3 separate regions of the Homo sapiens genome follow, and all the other regions are linked to region 2. The links come from fine-mapping of genetic effects on gene expression. A gene starts in region 2. Each other region holds a variant in brackets. All regions are shown on one strand. Distances are between the middles of the regions.

What was found.
Region 1: its variant is fine-mapped to the expression of EFCAB14 in whole blood (INTERVAL, PIP 0.98).
Region 3: its variant is fine-mapped to the expression of EFCAB14 in whole blood (INTERVAL, PIP 0.98).

The regions. Positions count from the first base shown.
Region 1 is chr1:46,074,639-46,082,638 of GRCh38, reverse strand. It overlaps P3R3URF-PIK3R3 (P3R3URF-PIK3R3 readthrough), which reads left to right. Exons shown (of 10, transcript NM_001303427.2): 2 at 1,889-1,997; 3 at 5,026-5,124. It overlaps PIK3R3 (phosphoinositide-3-kinase regulatory subunit 3), which reads left to right. Exons shown (of 10, transcript NM_003629.4): 2 at 1,889-1,997; 3 at 5,026-5,124. Among named protein-coding and RNA genes, the nearest start is that of PIK3R3, 54 kb to the left of the region's middle. The variant G/A (reference allele first, on the strand shown) is at 4,242.
Region 2 is chr1:46,714,683-46,723,035 of GRCh38, reverse strand. It overlaps EFCAB14 (EF-hand calcium binding domain 14), which reads left to right and starts at 3,922. Exons shown (of 11, transcript NM_014774.3): 1 at 3,922-5,133; 2 at 6,593-6,741. The coding sequence starts at 4,949. RefSeq lists silencers at 3,698-3,747, 4,068-4,117.
Region 3 is chr1:46,045,405-46,053,404 of GRCh38, reverse strand. P3R3URF-PIK3R3 (P3R3URF-PIK3R3 readthrough) reads left to right here. Exons shown (of 10, transcript NM_001303427.2): 8 at 6,780-6,854; 9 at 7,317-7,487. It overlaps PIK3R3 (phosphoinositide-3-kinase regulatory subunit 3), which reads left to right. Exons shown (of 10, transcript NM_003629.4): 8 at 6,780-6,854; 9 at 7,317-7,487. It overlaps LOC124904171 (a long non-coding RNA gene), which reads right to left and starts at 1,176. Exons shown (of 3, transcript XR_007066061.1): 1 at 1,051-1,176; 2 at 258-400. The variant G/TG (reference allele first, on the strand shown) is at 3,284.

The sequences.
Region 1 (8,000 bases), 640 kb after region 2:
ATCATTTGAAAGTAGATTGTCAACGTGATGCCATATGATGACCATGTTGTGTGTATTTCCCACAAACAAGAACATTTTCCTACAGAAGCACAATATAACCATCAAAATCAGAAAACTAACACTGCTGTACTACTACTATGTCATACTCAGATCCCATTCAAGTTTTGCCCATTGTCGCAGTGTTGTCCTTAATAGCAAAAAATATCCAGTCCAGAATTACACATTGCATTTAATTGTCAGGATTCTTTAGTCTTCTTCAATCTGAAACATTTCCTCAGTCTTTCCTTGACCCTCATGACCTGTACATTGTTGAAGATTACAGGTAAGTTATTTTGTAGAATACCCCTCAATCATGGTTTGTCTGATGTTTCTTTATGATTAGATTCAGTTTATACATATTTGGCAGGAATGTCACAGAAGTGATGTTACATCCTTTTTAGTGTATTGTATTGGGGCCCACAGTTTTGCCATTATTTCTAATATTAACCTTGATTCTTGATTAAGGTGGTATTTGCCAGGCTTTTTCACTATTATTGTTTTTCCTTTTGCAGTTAGGATTTTGTGGGACAGTATATTGAGATAACAGTAATCTTGGTCCTCATCGATCTTTGTTTCTTTTATTTATTTATTTATTTATTTATATCTGCATGAACACATATATTCCTATTTTGTTTAATGAGTTATATTTCTTTACTATTATTATTTGTATTGATATGCCAGCTGTTCCAGATTTGGTCAGTGAGAGCCCCTTCCAGTTCGCTGTTTTGTTCTTTTAACATAGCCTCTCCCATTCTTTGAGCACTTCCTTCCTTTTTGGCACATGATGATGTTCAGGCTCATTTGGTACTTGCTCTATTCTGTCCCTGGAATCAGCAATTTCTTCAAAGAGCCCTGGTTCCTTTTAGTAGAGAATGGTATTAGAAAGCAAGGTCTAGGTGCTCAGTGTACATATTGGGGTGTTGTTGCCCCCAGGACCTCTCAGGGCAGCAGTCCCCAACCTTTCTGGCACCAGGGACCAGTTTCATTGCTGGGGTGGGGTTAGGCTGGGGGTATTGGTTTCAGGATGAAACTATACCACCTCAGATCATCAGGCATTAGTTAGATTTTCATAAGGATCACACAACCTCGATCCCTCACATGTGCAGTTCACAGTAGGGTTTGTGCTTCTATGAGAATCTAATGCCGAAGCTCAGGCAGTAATGTTCACTTGCCCACTGCTCACTTCCTGCTGTGTGGCGCTTTTCCTAACAGGCCGTGGACCAGTGCCAGTCCGCAGCCCGGGGGTTAGGGAATCTCTGTCTCGGGACAGAGCTAGGGAATATATGTATTCTGTGTATAGACATTTACATATTTATGTTTATATACATTGAAATTCATGAGTTGATATCTGTAGCTCTAATTCTAGTCCAAGACAAGGGGGTTCATTCTATTACAGTTGAGCAAATTATTAATAACATAACCATCATTTCATAGTTACCCTTTTTTTTGGTAGTAAGAATACCTAAAATTTACTCACTTGGCAGATTACCAGTATATAATACAATGTTATTAACTATAATCCTCATGTTGTACATTGGTCACTTAGTGGCTTTTGGACTGAGTTGTTTGGAAAAGGGGTTGCATGTTGTCTTTTGAGAGATGTGAATGAAGTTTTACAGACTTAGAAGTCAATGTTTCATAAGAAGGAAAAAAACAAATATCTTGACGTTTTCACTTTTTAGGCAATCAAAAGGATTCCTTCTGTTGCTAACATTTAACATAAAATAATACTCAATTTGATTGATAATTATTAGAATCTTAACATACCTTGGTTAGTGAGCTGCTCCTGAGGAAATTAGAAAACAGTAAATAATTTACATCTACAGAGTAATATTCATTTCTCTTCTAGCTCTTCCACCAAAGCCACCTAAGCCAATGACTTCAGCAGTTCCAAATGGAATGAAGGACAGTTCTGTTTCTCTTCAGGATGCAGAATGGTACTGGGGGGATATTTCAAGGTAACTAGAATGCTACTGTAATTGAATGCAGTTTTTTAAAAAGTCATTTTTGAGAATTAGTAGTTAAAGTAAACCATTTTAAGCTGGGCATGGTGGCTCATGCCTATAATCCCAGCAACTCAGGAGGCTGAGGCTGAAGAATCACATGATACCAGGAGTTCGAGGCTGTAGAGAGCACTCTGTTGCACTCCAGCCTGGGCAACAGAGTAAGACCCCCAACTCTCAAAAAAAAAGAGCATTGTAATGCTCTACTAATTGTTATTTAAAGATTACCATTTAAGGCCGGGTGCAGTGGCTCACACCTGTAAGCCATGCACTTTGGGAGGCTGAGGTGGGTGGATTGCCCGAGCTCAGGAGTTTGAGACCAGCCTGGGCAACACAGTGAAACCCTGTCTCTACTAAAATACAAAAAATTAGCTGGGCATGTTGGCATGCGCCTGTAATCCCAGCTACTTGGGAGGCTGAGGCAGGAGAATTGCTACAACCTGGGAGGCGGAGGTTGCAGTGAGCCGAGATAGTGCCACTGCACTCCAGCCTGGGCGACAGAGTGAGACTCTGTCTCTTAAAAAAAAAAAAAGAAAAGAAAAAGCTCACTTAAAAAATTTTGCATGGGAACGCTTCATTAGTGTCTTAATACTTTTCTTCCCATGAAAAAGTGACAAGAAAATCTTCATTATTTATTTGTTTTGAGATGGAGTCTCACTCTGTTGCCCAGGCTGGAGTGCAGTGGCATGATCTCAGCTTACTGCAACCTCCGCCTCTTGGGTTCAAGCGATTCTCCTGCCTCAGCCTCCCAAGTAGCTGGGATTACAGTCATGCATCACCATACCCTGCTAGTTTTTGTATTTTTAGTAGAGACAGGGTTTCACCATGTTGGCTAGGCTGGTCTCGAACTCCTGACCTCAGGTGATCCACCTACCTTGGCCTCCCAAAGTGCTGGGATTACAGGTGTAAGCCACTGCACCTGGCTGAAAATCTTTAAATTATGGGTGTGATTATTACTTCTAATACTATATTGAGGATGGATTTCTAAATAAGTGACATGTAGACATTTAGGATAGTTACATGTGTTTTAGAATTAAAAATATTTGTGGGTACTTAACATTTCTGTACCTTTCTTTCTCTTAAGCCAGTGGTTCCAAAGTCTTTGCATGCACAAAAATCAATTGAGGTGGAGCCCAGGAATCTGCATTTAATAGATTCCCTGGGTGAATTTGATGCAGTCTCTTTACACACCCCAGTTTGATAAACAGGACTCTAGGACAGATTTGTTTTCTGGGTAAAGTGTAGTTTTAGGTAATTTTGAACCTAAAGAGGGAATTATATACATTTAATTTGAATATTGTATTTTCTTACTAAATTTTTTTCTTGTTAAACTTGCTTTAGTGGGTCTCAGATGTATTTTCTTTTTAAAGCCCTATCCATTTCTGTCAAATCAGTTTCCAGGTTGATGCTGTATTCCTCAGAACACTTACCTATCCCTTTCTCTTCTCTGTTCTCTTCCTCTACCAAAATGGTATTTATTTAATTTTTTTTTACCCTTACGATTTCAACTATTTTAAGAGTACATTTGCATTGTTGTGCAGCTATCATCACCATCCATCTCCAGAACTTTTTCATTTTCCCTAACAGAAATTCTGTACCCATTAAACAATAACCCCCCATTCTCCCCTCCCTCAGCTCATGGCAACCACCATTCTGCTTTCTGTCTTATGAATTCAATTGTAGGTACTTTGCATAAGTGTAATCATATAATAATTGTACTTTTGTGACTGGCTTATTTCACTTTCTTCATACGTCTTCAAGGTTCATTCATGTTGTAGCATGTGTCAGAATTTCATTCCTTCTTAAGGCTAATATATGTATATGTTATATATTTTTTTAATCCATTCATCTGGACATTTAGATTGTTTCTAATTTATGGCTGTTGTAAATAATGCTGCAATTAATATTGGTGCACACATATCTGAGTCCCTGCTTTCAGTTATTTTGGGTATATACCCAGTAGTGGAATGGAATTGCCAGGTCATATGGTAGGTAATTCTGTGTTTAACTTTTTGAAGAGGACTTAATATGTTTTATTAAAAAAATTTTTTTTTTGAGATAGAGTCTCGTTCAGTCCCCCAGGCTGGCGTGCAGTGGTGCAGTCTCAGCCCACTGCAACCTCCGCCTCCCAGGTTCAAGTGATTCCCCTGTCTCAGCCTCCCAAGTAGCTGGGATTACAGGCGCTTGCCCTGCCACCAC[G/A]TCCGGCTAATTTTGTATTTTTAGTAGAGACAGGGTTTCATCATGTTGGCCAGGTTGGTCTCGAACCCGTGACCTCAAGTGACCTCTCTGCTTCAGCCTCCTAAAGTGCTGGGATTATAGGCGTGAGCCACTGCACCCAGCCATTTTATTTTAAAATTGGTTAGAATATTTCTATTTTAATATTGTACAATAAAAGTCTTTTTTTAAATTTTAAGATCATGTGGTTCTGATATGATTCAAGGGTCTTTTATGCCCTGCCATTTCCTTTAAGTGTTCTAGTGTTGTGCCTTAAAGTCCTAAATCAACTCTACAGAAGGAATTTGTTATCGGGACAAATTCAAACTAGGAGACTATCCTATTGAAAGGTTATGAACTTAGTGAATTTTCCCCCTTCTGTTCAGAAACAGCTGCCACTGTTGCTTAAATATAACCTTCTTTCTAAACAGCCACTGTTTTTTTCCTGAAACTTTACAAGTTCAGACCTGCCTAAGGAAACCCTTAAAGGCTTGATGGAAACAGTATCTCTTACACACATTTGAAATCTGGAAGAGTTTAAAAATCAAATAGCTCTTCTGTAGATTGCGTAACACCAAAAATCAAAACAGAAAGAGCATATTTAATGCAGGGAAGAACTAAATGACCTCTAAATGGCTCCGTTATTCTATAACCTCAGGCACACCTACTGCCGAAGCTGCCTTAGTAGTAACATGTAAAGAAGGCACACCTACTGCCGAAGCCACCAGTGTTGACATTTTTTCATTTTTCTTATAATTCTGTTCTTCAGGGAGGAGGTAAATGACAAATTGCGGGATATGCCAGATGGGACCTTCTTGGTCCGAGATGCCTCAACAAAAATGCAGGGAGATTATACTTTGACTTTGCGGTAAGTACTTTTCAGTCTTTTGGCTAGTTCTCTACTGATGTTATTTTAGTTCTGGGTATACAGATATTTCTGTATTTAAATCTTTATCTATACAATTTTTCATATTTTCATTTAATTTATGTACATAATTTCCAGTCTGGCTAATTCTTTTTTCTATACATTAAGTATTTAAACATTTTGTATAAAAATGGCAACTTAAAAAAATGTAGAAAGAAAATGAAAAGGTTAAAATCCCAAAATGTAAGGGAGTAGGAAGCATACTGTTGACCTTATAAAGGAAGTAGAAGTCATGGGCATATTCTAAGGGTAAAAATGAATCTATCCTTTGAATAACCCTATTATCTTCCTTAATGCAGACTTTAGAAAGCAGAACTCAACATAATTTTGGTTGATGAGGATATGCTGAAGATAAAGCAGTTCCTAGCGTATATCATGCTTTTCATATGGGCATATTTAGAGTCTTTTAAGTGATGGATATATGATTTTTTAATATTTGCACATATTTTTAAAAGGTTAAGAAAACTGCATGAGAAATTTCCACATTTAATTTTAATAATTAAAGTAGCCCAGTTACAATAAAGCCTTATGATTTTTTTTAAAAAGGAAATATTTAACAAAAAGAAAATAACAGTAACAATAACAATGACTAACTTTCTTGTACTAAGGCCTTTACATGCAATAGATCATTTATTCTTCACAACAACCTTATGAGGTAGGTATTATTACTATTCCCATTTTATAGATGAGGTAACTAAGGGTTAACATGGTTAAGGAACTTGCCTAAAGTCACATAGTTAGAAAGTGGTAGAGGAAGAGTTTAAATCCAGATTCATCTGGCTGTTTGCTGCCTTTCCAGCCTAATATCTTTAGGAAAAATAATGCCTCATTTTATGCTAGTATGGCATAAATTTGGAGGCACTATTTTAGTTTCTGGTAAAGAGCTAAAGAAATTAATACCTTTGCACTTGAATTGTGCTGACTAATCAGTGTTCTACAGTAATTCATTGAACACAATTTTTCCTCTACTCCACTCAGGCTTCTGTCTCCACCACTCCACGGAGACTGCTAAACACTTTTCTCTTCTTACCTTACTTGACCTCTTAGCAGCATTGGTCATAGACACTTCTTCTTAGAAGCAGTTTATTGTTTTGGCTGTTAAGACGTCACACTTTCCTGATTTTCTTCCTAACTTTAAGCTATTTTGCTCAATATCTAAATTTTAAGTGTTCCAGGGCTTGGGACCTGGGCCTCTTTTTCTTCTCTGTATTCATTCTCTTAAGGTGAGCTTGTCCTGTCCCATGGCCTTAATATATGTGATGATTAATTTAAGTGTCAATTTGGCTGGATTACCTAGAGAACTGGTAAAGCATTATTTTGGATGTGTCTGTGAGGGTGTTTCCAGAGCAGATTAGCATTTGAGTCAGTGGACTGAGTAAGGAAGATCGCCCCTCAGTGTGAGCACCATCCAATTGGCTGAGGATAGAACAAAAAGAAAGAAAAAAATTTTATCTCTCTGTCTTGGAGCTGGAGCACACTCTTATTCTGTCCTTGGAAATCAGAACTCCAGCCTTTGGACTCCAGGACTTATACCAATCCTCCTCACCCCCTATGGGTTCTCAAGGCCTTCAGTCTTGGACTGAGAGTTATACCATTGGCTTCCTGGGTTCTGAGGCTTTAGGAATTGGACTGAGCCACACTACTGGCATGCCAGCTTGCAGATGGCCTGTAATGGGACTTCTCAGCCTCCATAAACATGTGAGCCAATTCCCCTGATAAATCCCCTCATATTTATCTTTGTCTCTCTCCTATTGGTTCTGTCTCTCTGGAGAACTCTGATTAACACAGATTTGGTACCAGGAATGATTCTAGAGGAAGGTAATTTTTTTTTTTTTTAACACAGGTTATTGCTCTGTCTCCTAGGCTGGAGTGCAGTGGCATGGTCATGGCTCACTGCAACCTTAACCTCCCAGGCCTAAGTGATCCTCCTACCTCAGCCTCCTGGGTAGCTGGGACCAAAGGCGCATGCCACCACACCCAGCTAGTTTTTGTGTTTTTTATTTTTTGTAGAGATGGAGTCTCCCTGTGTTGCCCAGGCTGGTCTCAAAACTCCTGGGCTCAAGCAGTCCTCCTGCCTCGACCTTCCAGTGCTGGGATTACAGGCGTGAGCCACTGTGCCCAGCCTGAGGAAGAGAATTTTAAGGATGAGTTTCCTTAATTAATTTTGGGGTTCCCGGAATTGGCTCTCTTAATTTGATGAGACTTAAAAATGCTAAGGACCCTACTTCTAATAGTACAGAGAGCACTGACAGTCCATGCTGTGAACTGTTTATATAGCGATATGCTAAATATCTGCATTTGATACTTCTAATTTACCACCTATAAGAGGCAAGGAACTTGGCAACCCTGTATTTGATACTGTCAAACGTTTGTAGAAAACCAAGGTTTTCTAATATTGCTGGACGAAGTGATGAAAGAAAAGGGTGAGCTCAGGGTTTTGATTTCCTGGCCCCAGCTCTGCCATAAATAGCCCAAGAGCTTCTAAATATGCCCTAAGTCAGAATCTTCTCTTCTGTTGCCAAAGGTCTGAAATTGCACAAAATCAAACACATACTCTCATCATGTGATTAGCTGAATTACAATCAAAGGTGAAATATCAGCCTTGTAAGGTATCTGCTGTTAAAATGAGGGCATTGGTTGGGAAAGATGGAATTCTATACGTTTGGATGGGGATGTGTGGGAAGACCCTGATGAGGCTGGGGACGTTGAGCTCCTAAATTCTGATGAGTCTTGTTTGCCAGCAGAAATGGCCTCCCACCCCCAGTAACAGCATCCCCCCTACACTGGCCTTTCCACCTTTGTCTGAGGGGATTGACTCT
Region 2 (8,353 bases):
GAAACAGGCCTCTTGCCTGTCTCATGTGAGGGTCTACACTCACCTTGTATCACCAGGCCTAAGGGAATACAACATTAAATAGTGAATAATAAACAGGAAGACAGGTTGAGAGAGACAGCAGAGAGAGAAAAGGAACCCTGCATTTGCATTTGCACTGGTCCTCATAAATTATGTAGCCAGTCCTGGGTACTATGATTGCCTCTATTTCACTGAGGTGGCAATCATAGTGGACACTGAGGCTCAGAGAGGCTCAGTACTTTGTCCAGGATCACACAGCTGCCAAGTGGCAATGTTCAGACACAGACTTAGATCCCAGGTAAGAGAGGACTCCAAGATCTTAAAGAGCTTTCAGCCCAGGAATTAGGAGAGCTGGATCCAATTTTTGACTATGACCTTGGCAAGTTTGCCCCTACTCTGTGCCTCAGCTTGCCCAAGTGAAAGCACTCTATGGAGTCTTCCAAAGTAGCACAGGGTCTCAAGATTTGGCTTTGCCAGTTATATGGGCTGTGATTTTGAGCACAGGGAAATCATCTTTGCCTACCTTCCCCATAGAGTTGCCAGAAGCATTCAGCAGACATGTACCCACTCTGCATGACACTTCACAGCATGTAAAGCACGCCCATGCTACTCCCTGCCCCAAACAACATGAAGCAGAAGACTGGGCTAGGAATATTATCATCCCCATATCACAGACAGAAACTTTGAAGCGCCAGAACTCTAAAGTGACTTCCCCAAACTCACTGCATTTCAGGCAAGTTTTGAGTAGGTTAACAGACTCCCCAGGATCATAATATGAACAACCCCAAAGGAGAAGATGGATCACAACCTTGGGAGTCCTGGTGTGGGAGGGCAGCAGGAGGCCCCACTCTGAGTGGGGTGGCTTAATCCCTGGCCTTGAGGGTCCCGGGTCTGAGGAAGGAGGCCAGAGAGGTATCCAAGAGCTCCTGAAGGAAAAGAAACAGCTGGCCAGTAACTTTCAAAGGGTGACAGCATCCTGTGTGATGTCTACCCAACAAGGAGGGGTGTTATCTACAGATCATAAGCAAACAGGCAGACAGAAGGACTGAGAGGCAGATCCAGCAGAAGCATTCCCCTGTTTGTCAATTCTACTCCTGCAGCCTCCCCACCCATGACCAGCCCACTGGCCAGTCATGGGAGAGATCTCCACCCACAGAGAGCACAGGCTCTGGCTGACCAGAAGTCCCTGCAGCGGGGGTGGTATGTCCTCAGCCCTGCCCCACTCCCCTGGGTTCCTCAGTCCCTGGTTCCCTGGGAACCTGTATCATCTACAACAAAGGAGGGCCACCCCACCCTCGGGCCAGCCACCTCTCCTGCCTGGGGCTTCTGGTGACCACAGGATGTGTTTCAGAAATGGTTCTTGAAGTCAGGAGCCTCACCTGTCTATCCCCAGTCCTTCAGGGAAGCATTAGTGAAGAACTCTCCAGTAAAACTTTCTGTGGTGGTGGAATTGTACTATTACTTGCTGCCTGGTAGCCACTTGCCACATATGGCTACTGGACACTGTGGCCAATGATACTGAAGAACCAATTTAAAATTTGTATTTTGTTTTAATTATGTTAAATGTAGATTTAAATTGTTATATGTGGCCAGTTTGGCTACTGTATTGGGCAATGAAGCTCTAGAAACAAAAGGGGACAATACACCATGACTTGGGGCTTCAAAAACACTTTCACATTCATCTCATTGTCCTGTGAAATAGGTGTTTATCCCCATTTTACAGAGGAGAAAACTGAAGCTCAGAGAAACTAAACGGCTTCCATGCTGATGGAGCCAGGAAGAAGTAGAGACATGATTGAGTCCCAGGTTTCTTGATTTTGATTCCAAAAGTCCACTCATACCTCTTTGCAACACTGCCCACTTATGTAGTCATCACATATTTATTGGGTCATCGTTATTTAGGAGTACACTTCTGGGCTAGACACTTAAAAACAAATCAGATACAGGCCCAGGCTTTGCGAGAATCCTTGGACAAAAGCAGCGTAATTGCCACAGTAAGAATATGGGCATAAAAATTACTTTAAGTGACTTTCTTCCAAGTAGCTCAAAGCACTTTGCTTTAAATTCCATTTATATCTGATGACTTCCCAATTGATATTTCAGGCCCCAACCTGTGCCCAGAGAACTCTCAATGGGTATACCAAACAGCCTCCATTTGAATATTGAATTGGCTTGTCAAACTTGTCCCAAACTTGCTCTACCCCATCTCAATAAATAACAATTCCTTGCTTCCAGTGTTTCCACCGCCAAACCCTCTCTTCTCTTCACACCTTTCATCTAATCTATCAGCAAAAATTGTCAGCTCTGTCTTCAAGAAACATCCAGAATGCTCTCCATCTCTGCTACTGCCTCTCTAATCTATCAGCATCATCTCTAGCTGGACTGTAACAAACTGCTCTCCTGTGTTCCTCACTCTCCCCCCACTTTTTTCTACAAAGTAGCCAGAGTAATTTTTTCCTTTATTTTATTTTATTTTATTTATTTATTTATTTATTTATTTATTTATTTATTTATTTATTTATTTATTTTTGAGACGGAGTCTCGCTCTGTTGCCAGACTGAAGTGCAGTGGTGCAATCTCGGCTTGTTGCAACCTCCGCCTCCCGGTTTCAAGCCATTCTCTTGCCTCAGCCTCCCAAGTAGCTGGGATTACAAGCGCGCACCACCACGCCCAGGTAATTTTTGTATTTTTAATAGAGACAAGGTTTCACCATATTGGCCAGGATGGTCTCCATCTCCTGACCTTGTGATCCGCCCACCTCAGCCTCCCAAAATGCTGGGATTACAGGCGTGAGCCATCGCGCTGGCCCAGAGTGAATTTTTTTTTTTTTTTTTTTTTTTACGGAAAAGCCAGAGTATGCTACCTCTCAGCTTAAAGCCCCCAGTGCTTTCCCAAAGTCCTTTCAGTGATCCATAAGGCCCTAAAGCCCTGGCCTCTGATGCTTCTCTGACCTCATTTCCTATCACTCTGCTCCTTGCTCTTCTGGTCCAGCCACAACAGGTCTTCCTGGTCACTCCTTCCTGCAGCCACTGCACAGCTCATTCCCTCACCTCTCCTCCGATAAGCTGACTAAATGTTCCCTTTTCACAGAGGCACTCCCCATCACCTGACCGTGTTTCAATTTTCATCATAACACTTATCACCTCCTGACATTTAATATGTTTGCCTATTGTTGCTCTCCTCCCTCTAGAGTATAAATAAACTGCAGGAATAGATTGGCAGATAAGATACACGATGCTCAGTTAAACTTGCATTTCACATACACAATGAATAATTTTTTAGTGTGAGGATGTCCCAGATGTTGCATGGGATGTCTTAATGCTAAAAAATTGTTTGCTGTTTCTCTGAAATTCAAACTTTACTGGGTGTCCTACATTTTTATTTGCTAAATCTGGCAACACTATACAGGAAGACAAGGACCCTGGTTATTTTGTTCATGGCTGTATCCCCAGCGCTAGAACAGCTCCTGACACGTAGTAAGTAAGCTCTCAATAAATATTTATTGACTGAATGAATGTGTTAATTAATCTGAAACGCGCCTAAACTTTTAACAGCCTGTGTGAGAGTCAGAGAGGCGGAGCCTTCAGACTTGGTTAGTCCAGGGGGCGTGGGCGGCTGATGAACTTTCGAAGTAGGTCGAGCAGCCGGGCGCTTTGCCTGCCCCGCCCGCGCTCCGCAGGATGCAGGACTCCACCCGGCTCAGGTTCGCAGCAGGTCCCGGAAGCCCTCCTGGGGGCGGGGCCACCCTAATCGGCAGGTGGGACCCAGCCCCAGCCGGGGCAGGGCCCCTTTAACGCCCCACCTCTCCGCCACGACTTTCGCCCCGGCGTGACGTCACCCCAGCGGGCGACCAATGGGAGTGCGGCTTACTGGCAGGCGGCGCAGGCGGCCGCTGCCAAAGGGGAAGTGATCTGGGGCTGGAGCGATGGCCCGGGGCTGGAGCTCGCGGCCGCCGCCGCCGCAGCCGCCGCCACCAACGCCAACAACAACGTGTCGGGAGCAGCCGCGGCCGAAGCCGGAGCAGGGGCCGGAGTCGCGGCTGGAGTGGGGCCTGCGCGTGTGAGTGGCCGAGAGTTGCCCGTGCCGGAGACCTCAAACTCCGGGCGGGAGCGCTTTCGGTCGGCCGAGCCGCCGTCGCCCGCGGCACCGTGTCCCCAAGGCCCAGACAGCGGGGCGGGGGTCTATCAGGCGCGGGACTGGCTTCTCTCAGGCCGACCCTTCTAGCCGGGCTCCGGATCTTCCTCGGCCTCGGGCCCCCTTCACGTTCAGGACGGAGGCCGGAGAACGGTGATCATCACACACCCCAGCCGGCTTCCTGGCCAGGGCATTTTCTCTGCGGCCAAGCAGTGTTGGGATTGTAGCTGCTGGGAGCCCCCTCCTGCCGCCACCTCTCCTGCAAGGAAGGGACTGACGCGTTCCCACTTTCTTACTCTGCACCTCCCCACTCTCTTCCCATTCAAGAACGAGTTTCTCTTCCCTCTCCATTGGAAATCTTGCTCCGGAGGTCCGAAACACGTATTTTAAGCGTGCCCTTCCTCACCTCCTGGAGCACCCTTAGAAGTATTGCCTACTTATCCGGGCTGAGAATCCTTCATTTTTGACCTGGCTTTTTTTTCGCCCTTTGGGAGATAAAGGTCCCTCTCCACCCTCTACTAACACTCTGCACCCAAGGCCTTATCCTTTGGGGTCACCAGCTCCTTGGCCATTTCTATGTGATTTCCCCCACCCATCTGAGTTCCAGTTTCCTCTGGGCTCCAATCTCCAGTCCCTGGCGGATCTGGTCAGTCCCACCCCTAGGTGGGAGTGACCAGGGGGCTCTGGCCCAGGATTCCCAACCCTGGAAGGCAGCTCCAAGGCAGGAAGAGAATTGGGCATCGGGTACGAACCTGGCAGCTCAGGAGTCGGGGCTCCACTCACCCCACACAAAAAGATGAAAAAGCGCAAAGAGCTCAATGCATTGATTGGTTTGGCTGGGGACAGCCGGAGAAAGAAGCCCAAGAAAGGCCCAAGCAGTCACCGCCTGCTTCGCACTGAGCCTCCCGACTCAGACTCTGAGTCCAGCTCCGAAGAGGAAGAGGAATTCGGTGTGGTTGGAAATCGCTCTCGCTTTGCCAAGTGAGTAGTGGTGAAAGGTGGAATGGGAAGAAGGCATCTCCTTGCACTACCAAGGGGCCACATTGACAGGAAGGAGAAAGGAAGTCCTTAGGAAGAAAAAAGGGTGTAGGCCTTGGAAGTCAAAGAGGGAAAAACGGTTTTAGGGAGAAGGTAAGTTCAGATCCTGAATGAAGAATAAGTTAGAGATCTGTCTTTAGGTGTAGAAAGAAAAGCTCCAAATCTGAGGTGGAAATGTGGACTTGGAGAATGTGCCAAGAGCCCAGGGAGTCCTAAAGAAGCAAAGAATGGAGACAGAGGAGCAGAGAAGCTTTGGGGACTAGACTTTTTAAAACAGTGTAGAACAAAGGAGAAGCAGAGACTTTAAGACTGCAGATTATTTCGTTTTTGCACTCTTGATGAGTCTGAATATTGGTGGTGGGGAAATATGGTGAGAGATATACTGTAGGAAGTATGAGCCTTGAGAGTAGGTGGGGTCGGGGGGCAAAAGAAGAGGCATCATTTTCCCTAGCCATTCATAGGTGGAGAGACCACTAGGCAAATCAAGTAGTAAGATTTGAGGACATTGGGATTGGGGCTCAGGATGGGAAAGGACTAAAGGGAACTTCAAAAACGTCCTTTGACTCTCTCAGAGCACACTAAAAGAAAAGAGGATTCTGCTGAGGATGTAGAAACAATGGCTAGGCAGAAGGTCGGGGTGCTGACATTGAGTGGTTGGTTGGTTTAAAATGTCTTGTTTTGTTAAAGGAAGAGTTTGATTTCTAATGAGCTTTGTCAGCTAAGGCTGTTAAGGGCAATCCTGGGTTTGGGTTATGAAGATCAGTTGAAGTGTTACCTTCATCAGAAGGTACCTGGAGTAGTAACCCTACTAAGTTAGTTTAGACCTTGAAGGTTGGTTGATGTTTTGTGTGAAATCCAGCCCCTTCTATGTTTCCTTACTTCTGAGCCAATAAGCTAGAATACACCAGGTGTCCACTTAAAACTACAGATCCTGTTTCTTTCATTTCTTTTGCAGTAAAACTTGCTCAAAAGTTTATAAAGTTTCAGTAAACTGGAGCAAGGTTCCCCGGAGTGAGTATGTATTTCAGAGAGAAATCAATAGGCAAATTCCAGTGCAGAGATGGAATTGCAGAGAAACATTGGTCTTTACACTTTTGTGACCTGAGCTTGTATTCAAAGACCTCCCTCCTGATAATGACAGCTGCAGTGCCTTTAGGTTCTTCCTTTTACCTGCAGGAACTCCTTCTGTTTTATGTGACATTTGAAACCTTTGTATCCAGTAGATGAACCCTTAATAGGTCATATTATTTATTCATTTAAGTGCTTTACCCTGCCTCCCCTGGTTAATTCACTGGTTATTCATTTAAAGGAGATAATTGCATGGCAAAACGTGTACTATTGCTAATAAAGCTATACCCATAATCACTTTTGTACTCATGGTTGAATTTGTCCTCTTGAGCAGGGGAGACTATTTACGATGCTGCAAGATCTGTTATCCGCTCTGTGGTTTTGTCATCCTTGCTGCCTGTGTTGTGGCCTGTGTTGGCTTGGTGTGGATGCAGGTTGCTCTCAAGGAGGATCTGGATGCCCTCAAGGAAAAATTTCGAACAAGTAAGTAAGTGGTTACTCTCTTTTTTTTTTTTTTTTTTTTTTTTTTGAGACAGGGTCTTGCTCTGTCGCCTAGGCTGGAGTACAGTGGCGCAATCTCGGCTCACTGCAACATCCGCCACCCAGGTTCAAGTGATTCTCATGGTCAGCCTTCTGAGTAACTGGGATTACAGGTGTGTGCCACCACACCCAGCTAATTTTTTTGTCTTTTTAGTAGAGACGGGGTTTCACCATGTTGGCCAGGCTGGTCTCAAACTACTGACCTCAGGTGGTCCACCTACCTCGGCCTCCCAAAGTGCCAGGATTACAGGCGTGAGCCACCACACCCAGCAGTGGTCACTCTTTTCAGGGTGTAATCCTGGACTCCTTTCCAGGTTCTGGGACAAAGTCAACCCTGCTGAACGAAGATTTTTGCCCATTCTAGTGAAGCAATTATACGTTCCTCTCAGTATTTTTATACTCTTTTTGAGCTCTCTGCTTGAATGTTGTAACACTTATTTGTTTTTAAACTCACAAATAAAAGGCAGTGCTTATGCACCAGCAGGACAAGTAGCATCTGAAATAATGGCATTGCAGTCAATGCTTAGCGTGCAAAAGGCAAGAGACTCCTACCCTAGGGGTAGGAGTCTAGAACTTGGTGTAACCTCTACTTATGGCTTGCATCTCCCCAAGCATAAAGTGGCAATGACAACACTGGGCTATTCCTTCCACCTCACAGGGCCATTTGAGAAAGAATGTGGGAGCATCTGTCAAACGATTGCCTCTTTAGAAGGACTGAATAGGAGCATAGGAATGGGCAATAATAAGAGTAGCTAACATTTGTGGAAGGCCTACTCTGTGCCAAGTCTCAAATCATTTTCTTTACAAAATAATCCGGTGAGATGGGTATTATTTTTATTATTTTGTGCTCTTAGAAGGATTAAGTAATTTGTTCAGTGATTAAGTATGACAGAGCTGAGCGTCCTCTTGCCCCTTGCTGCCCAAATTCACATTTATAACACTACTGTCTGCACCACTGTTCCTGGTGGCCTTGTAAGCCTATGCACATTTCTTCAAGTGCCTACAGATCTCTTTGATATCAACTTGGTCAGTAATCTAAAAGAAGTTTAGTAGAAGAAACAGGAAGAACTGGTTTTCTGCATACTTATCAGTTTTCAAGCTTAGAGCAAGGACTGATAGATTTCTCTCCTTAGCTGTGCTTATACTAGTAACACGATCTCTTTCAAGAAAAAAACATTTAAATACCATTAATGAGTGTTATCATTTTAAAGTTTTAGGAAACTTGAACTAAGTTACATACTCGTGAAGGGCTTACAACAACCATACCTACTTTGAACACTGTGCAACTGTCAGAAATGTTTATCTCATGAGTGAGTTTTAAAGTTTAAGGAGGTTTTGAAGTCACAGAGTTTTGTATATTCTAAATTGTAAAGTTATATTTTACACATCCAAATTACTTTTTCATTTCTTTTTCTTTCTTGTTTTTTTTTTTTTTTGAGATAAGGTCTTGCTTGCTCTGTCACCCAAGCTGGAGTGCAGTGGCATCTGGCTCGTTGCAGCCTTGACTTCATGGGCTCAAGCAGTCTTCCCGTGTCAGCACCCCACACCCCCAATC
Region 3 (8,000 bases), 670 kb after region 2:
CTATATAGCATGTGGCAAACCAGACCTTGGAAGTTTCTTTAATGGGTTGTATAAACTAAATACAGAAGACAGAAAGAAAACAACAGCAAAAAAAGACAACAAAAACCATACACACCAAAAAAAACCACAGAAAACAAAACAGTGACACCACAACAACAACAACAAATATAAGAGTTTAGATAACATCATGGATGACAAATTCATAACCTACAAGTAAGGACAACTCAGAAGTGTAGGGAGACACAGACAGCCATTACCTCTTTTGGAAGGGCTGCTTCCAGGAGAATAGTTCAGTGTCCCATGGTCCATGCTTTGATGTTTCTAACAGAGAATTGTCTCTGGGCTTGGTGGATTTGATCTATTCTAATGCTGGAATTTGTATAGTCGGTCCTGAAGAAGACTGGTAGTAAAATACGTGTCTCATATTAGCATTGCTGCATGATACTGAGTATGATCTCTCTCTGGTCTTGTTTTAAAGGAATAGGGTGGAATTCTGTGATACCTACCTAAAGACTGTCATTAGTTCTTTAAGCCCTCTTTGGATGTGGTCATTTCCTTGACTGGCCACTCCATAGCCCACAAGGATTCTATGTGATTGTCTGCTGAGAGCTTGGTGTACTACTAGTAGGATATTCTTGAGTGTTTAAATACAGAATTTCATTGCTTAAATATAGAAAAAAAATTCTAGGATATTATTCCATTTACTGGAAGCTCAAGAATAGGTAAAACCTATCTATGATGATAGAATTAAAAATAGTGATTATTTATGGTGGGGGTTTTGATGGGAAAATGGGATGAGGAGCCTTTAAGGGTTCTAGAAATGTTCGAATCTTGATATGAGTGGGGTTCCATGGGTTTATACATAGGTAGAAATTTATCAGTACACTTAAGATTAATGTGCTTTATGTGTATTATAACTCAATAAATACATTAAAAATTTCTTAGGTATCAATTTTTTAAAAAATTCCTTTTCAAAAAAAGGAATTTTGTTGTTAATATGCAATTCTTTTTCCTCATGAGTTAAGGCTAGCTTTCATGATTACCATTTACCTTTTTTGGTATTGTAGTCCCCCTTGGTCCATGGTTTTGCTTACTGCGGTTTTGCTTTCCGTGTTTTCTGGTATCCCCAGTCAGCCACAGTCTAGATAGGTGAATACAGCACAATAAGACATTTTGAGAGACCACATTCACATAACTTTTATTCCAGCATATTGTTATAATTGTTCTATTTTATTCTTAGTTATTTATTTTATTTAATTTTTTTTTTGAGATGGAGTCTCACTCTGTCACTCAGGCTGGAGTGCAGTGGCGCGATCTCAGCTCACTGCAAGCTCCGCCTCCCGGGTTCACGCCATTCTCCTGCCTCAGCCTCCCGAGTAGCTGGGACTACAGGCGCCTGCCACCATGCCCAGCTAATTTTTTTATTTTTTTAGTAGAGATGGGGTTTCACTGTGTTAGCCAGGATGGTCTCAATCTCCTGACCTTGTGATCCGCCTGCCTCGGCCTCCCAAAGTGTATTATTTGTTTTTGTTAATCCCTTACTATGCTTAATTTATAAATTAAATGATCACAGGTATGTATGTGTAGGAAAAAACAGTATATATAGGGTTTAGTACTGTCTGCTTTCAGGCATCTATTTGGTTGTCTTGGAACTATTCCCCATGGATAAGCAGGGGCTACAGTATTCATAAACCAAAATTCATAAATTTAAAATAATAACGGCCATAACAATATAGGTACATAATGATGATGGGTTTTTTGATGCATATTCTGCTTAGGGAATTGATGAGTTTTGAGTAATATATATATAGGGGAGTTTGCAGATAAAGGAGTTAGTTCTATGTGGCCGGGTGCAGTGGCTCACACCTGTAATCCCAGCACTTTGGGAGGCTGAGGCAGGTGGATCACCTGAGGTCAGGAGTTCGAGACCAGCCTGGCCAACATGGTGAAACCCTGTCTCTATTAAAAATACAAAAATTAGTCAGGCATGGTGGCGCATGCCTGTAATCCCAGCTAGTGGGAAGCCTGAGGCAGGAGAATTGCTTGAACCCGGGAGGTGGAGGTTGCAGTGAGCTGAGATCGCCCCACTGCACTCTAGCCTGGGCAACAGAATGAGACTCTGTATTAAAAAAAAAAGAAAAAAAAGTTCTGTGGAGGGTGCTGTGTTCTGGTTTTATTTTTTGCTTTTACAACTTTATTGAGATACAGTTTACATCGCATACAGTTCACCCATTTAAAGTGTATTATTCAATGTTTTTAGTATGTTCACAGGTATTTTGTCATCACCACATATTTTAGAACATTTTCATCACCTTAAAAAAAACCCTGCACTGTTTACTTAACATCCCTATCACCTCTTTCATTTAGCCCTAAACAACCGCTAATCCACTTTCTGTGTCTATGGATTTGTCTATTCTGGACATTTCATATGAATGAAAATAATGTAAAATGTACTCTTTTGTGACTGGCTTCTTTCACTTAGCATGGTGTTTTCAAAGTTTGTCTGCGTATGTCAGTATTTCATTCCTTTTTATGGCCAAATAATAGTCTGTTGTATAGTTATACCACATTTTGTTTAATCATCATCAGTTGGTGGACATTTGGGTTGTTTCTGTCTTTTTGGCTATTTCAGTAATGCTGCTGTGAACATTTATGTACAGGTTTTTGGATGGATGTGTATTTTCATTTTTCATGGGTATATGCTGAGGAGTGAAATTCCTGGATCATATGGTAATTATCATTGTGTAGTGGTTGCACTATTTTACATTCACACCAGTAGTGATAATTGGGGTTTCTTAAAGTAATGAATCATTCTTTAATACATTTCTTTTCTTTTTTTGAGACAGATTTTCGCTCTTGTTGCCCAAGCTGGAGTGCAATGGTGCAATCTTGGCTCACTGCAACCTCTGCCTCCTGGGTTCAAGCAATTCTCTTGCCTCAGCCTCCTGAGTAGCTGGGATTATAGGCGCATACCACCACCTCCAGCTAATTTTTGTATTTTTAGTAGAGATGGGGTTTCACCATGTTGGCCAGGCTGGTCTCGAACTCCTGACCTCAGGTGATCCACCTCCCTCAGCCTCCCAAAGTGCTGGGATTACAGGCATGAGCCACCGCACCTGGCTTCATTCTTTAATATATTTCTGATAACTAAATTTTTATAAGTGATTTTTCTTTTTAAAGTATTGTATATGTTATCCCACTTTGTTTTTATGTAGAGAATATGTCTGTCCATAAAATTTGGTGGAAGACAAGTTTCATTCCTCATTTTTTTTTTTTTTTTTTT[G/TG]AGACAGAGTTTCACTCTTGTTGCCCAAGCTGGAGTGCAATGGCACGATCTCGGCTCACTGCAACCTCTGCCTCCCAGGTTCAAGCACTTCTCCTGCATCAGCCTCCCAAGTAGCTGGGATTACAGGCGTGCGCCACCATGCCTGGCTAATTTTTTGTATTTTTAGTAGGAACGGGGTTTCACCATGTTAGCCAGCCTGGTCTCGAACTCCTGATCTCAGGTGATCCTCCTGCCTTGGCCTCCCAAAGTGCTGGGATTACAGGCATGAACCACTGCGTCCAGCTCCATTCCTCATTTTTTTTTTTAATTAAATTTATTCCAAGCTCCCACTGGCCTGGTTACATTAAAAATATTTGATCTCTGTTATCATTCATACCTCCTACACAGACTGACACTTGGATCATGTAAGAATGTCATCCTGAAGTAGTGCCAGAAAATTAGAGGAGCACAAAGTCCTTTGTGCCTCCCTCTTGACTGCTGTCATTGGGTGCTCCTCTGCCTAATCATTGGGTCTTGCCATCTGGCTATTTTAGAAAATTCCAAGGTGTCCTTCACAGTAATCTCATCACTGGCTACCAACAGATGCTGCATCTTAAAACCTCATTCTCCATCCAGGATGCCCTGTGCCTGAGGCACCGTTTTCTGTCACCCCGTTTTCTACTTCAGCCAGGCTCTAAGCTTCTGCTTTCTTCCAGGACGAAGGCGTCAGCTTCAAAGTCGTTTCTCCTGTCCTTCTCTCTCAGGGGCTTCCCAGCTTAATCCTTTTGTCTTAGACTGAAACACAAACTCTCTTCTTAAAGTGTGGTAGTTGGGCTGTAAAACCAATTAGATCTTTAGAAAGGACACTATATAATACATATTTTTTCCCTTACTTGCTGGGGTAGGGCTAGGAAAAGATATGCTAACACCAGCTATTTTTAATCTATGGAAGTAGTATTTTCCTTTTTTTTTTTTTTTAAGAAGAGATTGCTGGGCCAAAGAGAGATGGGTCCAAGACCATGCCAAAAAATATGTATATATAGTATCTTTTCTAAAAATCTAATTGGTTTTACAACCCAATTACCACACCAACAGAATCAGAGCTGGATGTTAGGTCTTTGAATGTTTTGCCTCAGATTTTTCCTGTAGAATTTATTGCATCTATTTGTGATCAGTGCATGATTCGATAACATTAAATGTGAATTAACGTATTTACTAAAGCTATTTGAGGTTTTTGAAAATGGTTTTTAAAATCTAATCAACTCCTGGCATTGTTAATAGGTTTGTAAGGACTCAGAACTAGATAAGTCTTTGAAATGGACTTTTAGGAGATTGGAAAAGTTGCCTAAGTCAGAAGGTAGGCACCATCATAAATGGAGGGTGGAGCAAAAGCAATTTTTCTTTTTCTTTTTTTTTTCAATTAGGAAAGTGTTAGGAAATGAGTTCCTAACATTGTGTGTGGCAGAAAGGGAGGCTCAGTTTAAAGAGGTTGGTGGTTAAAAGAAAATGGGGATTCAAGAGAAAATGTCGTGCATTCATTCAACTCACACTTTTTTACCCAGTGTGCATATTTCTTTGATAAAGAGAAGGTCAGTTTCTTTAAGGATAGAAAACTTTGGGTGATAAGAATGCTTAGAGGAGGGCATCTGGATATTTTGATGACAGACGCGATGGTGTGGGGGAGGGGGTTTGTTACTAAATCAGTTGTATCAAGATCACATATTATCTATTTTCCAGTTTTGCTAAGAATAAAAAATGAAATCCAAGTTAACTAAAGGGCAATTCTTACTGAGAAAGACTGTGAAATCTGTCTAACAGAACTTTAAAATTAGGTGTGATGCCAAGTTATCTTGTATACTTGGGGAGATACAGGATGATCCTGGAGTTGTGAAGATTTTGTTAAAAGCAGCCCACCAGCAAATATTTACTGACAATTGAATGTCTATGTGCATGTGCTGTTTTAATAATTGGCAACATAGCCATGAACAGGACAGACCACTTTCATTACAGCAGCTTACATTTTATTGGGGAGACAGACATAAACAAATACAAATATAAAATAGGCCTGGCACGGTGGCTCATGCCTGTAATCCCAGCACTTTGGGAGGCCAAGATGGGCGGATCACCTGAGGCCAGGAGTTCAAGACCAGCCTGACCAACATGGTGAAACCCTGTCTGTACTAAAAATACGAAAATTAGCTGGGCATGGTGGCGCGTGACTGTAGTCCCAGCTACCCTGGAGGCAGAGGTGAGAGAATTGCTTGAACCCTGGAGATGGAGGTTGCAGTGAGCCGAGATTGTGCCATTGCATTCCAGCCTAGGTGACAGAGTGAGAGTCCGTCTCAAAAAAACCCCAACCAACCAACCAAACAAACAAAAATATAAAATAATGGATTTTAGCTAAGTGCTATGAAGATGATAAAACAAGGTAAAGTGTAGAGAGTGACTGGGGACTGCCTTAGTTGGGACAGTTAGGATAGTCCTCCCTGAGGGGATGGTGTTGATGATGAAACCTGAATGATAGGAGCCTTGCTTGGTGGGTAATGATGAACGAAGATGCTTTCCACTCCACTCTAGTTTTAGACTATTGGCCATCTGAAAGGAACAAAGTGTGCTGGTTTACCTCATTTTACATTTAAAATACTAGCACATTTTAAGATACTATGATTTTTTCTTTTCTTTCTTTCTTTCTTTTTTTTTTTTTTGAGATGGAGTCTCGTTCTGTCGCCCACACTGGAGGGCAGTGGTACAATCTCAGCTCACTACAGCCTCCACCCCCTGGTTTCAAGCAATTCTCCTGCCTCAGCCTCCCTAGTAGCTGGGATTACAGGCATGCACTACCACACTTGGCTAATTTTTGTATTTTTAGTAGAAACGGGGTTTCACTATGTTGGCCAGGCTGGTCTCAAACTGCTGACCGCAGGTGATCCACCTGCCTTGGCCTCCCAAAGTGCTGGGATTACAGGCATGAGCCACCGCGCCCGGCTTGGATACTATGATTTTCTTGGTAATGAAGTTCACTCATATTAATTACTCAGATTGCCACCCTGAATTTCTTGTGGCCTGCTTAAATGCAAAAATAGATCTTGAAGTTTTTAGTTAAAATATTAAACTCAATTCAGTAGGTCACACAGGAAGTGTGTCCTCAGGCTTAGTGGAGATTGCAAATGTGACACCATGCTAACCTAATGTTTTCAGAAACAAATGTCCCACTGTGAGTGCGAGTATGTGTGTGCTTGTGGTGGCACATCCTCCAGAAAAGAAAAATGAAAAGTGAAGGGCCTAATTTCAAGTAGCCCTCTATGTTTCTGCCTTTTTCTGGAAAAGATCAGTTCATCTTGATAGTAGTTGAAAGAAAAGTAATCGAGAGACTAATTTTGGGAAATCTTTGCCCATTCTGTGGGATTAGGAAAAACAAGAGGTGTCTAGACTCTAGAAGTTTAGTTGGCTCAGACATACCTACTTTGTCCAGTCAGAGTTTGCATGGATACTGACACTGGTGTCTTTCCTCTGGCAGATGGCTCAATCACAAAGGAGTGAGACAGAAACGCCTGAATGTCTGGCTGGGAATTAAGAATGAGGATGCTGATGAGTAAGTTCTCTCTATACCTTTCTGTCAGAGGGCTTTGTTATCAATATAAGACATGCGCCTTGTTTATACGTGGTAAATATTGGTTGTCATTGTCACTTGAGGACATTGAATCTAGAACTTTGACTATCTTTTGAATTGAATTGCCTGAAGGTACCCTATAGGCACTGGAGTTCAGAGACCTGCTTCTGAACTCAAAATCTGGATGTGTAAGCTACTTTGAGTATAGCTACCCAAAATCTGGATGTAAAAGCACTTTTATTCAGATGTTCATATTTCAGCTTATTGGATGAAACATGAATTCTTTGCTTTATGCACCATAGCAAGTAATGAAGTTAACACCCAAATAATTGCAATTTTGCTTTGTTATTTGTGGTTTAAAGATTTAGAAGAGTGTTTTATTTATGAATTTGCTTTTAGATAGAAGTAACTTGTTAGAATAATATACTAATATTTAATTTTTAGGAACTATTTTATCAATGAGGAAGATGAAAACCTGCCCCATTATGATGAGAAAACCTGGTTTGTTGAGGATATCAATCGAGTACAAGCAGAGGACTTGCTTTATGGGAAACCTGATGGTGCATTCTTAATTCGTGAGAGTAGCAAGAAAGGATGCTATGCTTGCTCTGTGGTGTAAGTCTTCTCTGGGGATATAACCTTTTGAAATCTTTTGCATCAATTATTATAAAATCAACCCCTCATAAAATTCAGATGAAATTAGTTAATGTACAGTAACGAGGACCCATGGCTCGGACCATAACTATTAGTACAAAAAAACCCAGCTTTATGAGAAATGATATCTGAAATTATCTTGGAGTTTTAATTTACGTGGTAAGTAGATTAGGCCCCGCAGTATTGCTGTTGGATTTCAGGTGTCTGTGAAAGGTAATGTGAGATCTTAAATTGAAAAAAAAAAAAAAAAAAAAAAAAAAAGCACTTAATTGTTTAGTAGTATCCTATATGTCTAGTATGGTCTCCAGTGTCAGATTAGGAAAAGCTTGATTAAATAGAACTGTTTTTACTTCAGAAGGAAAACTCTATCTAAAATTTTAAATTACATATTATTCTGTTGATGTAGTGACAGGAAATGTGGGCGTGTTTTCCATAAGATAATCGTGACTTTTTTGAGAAAAGCCTATTTTCCTT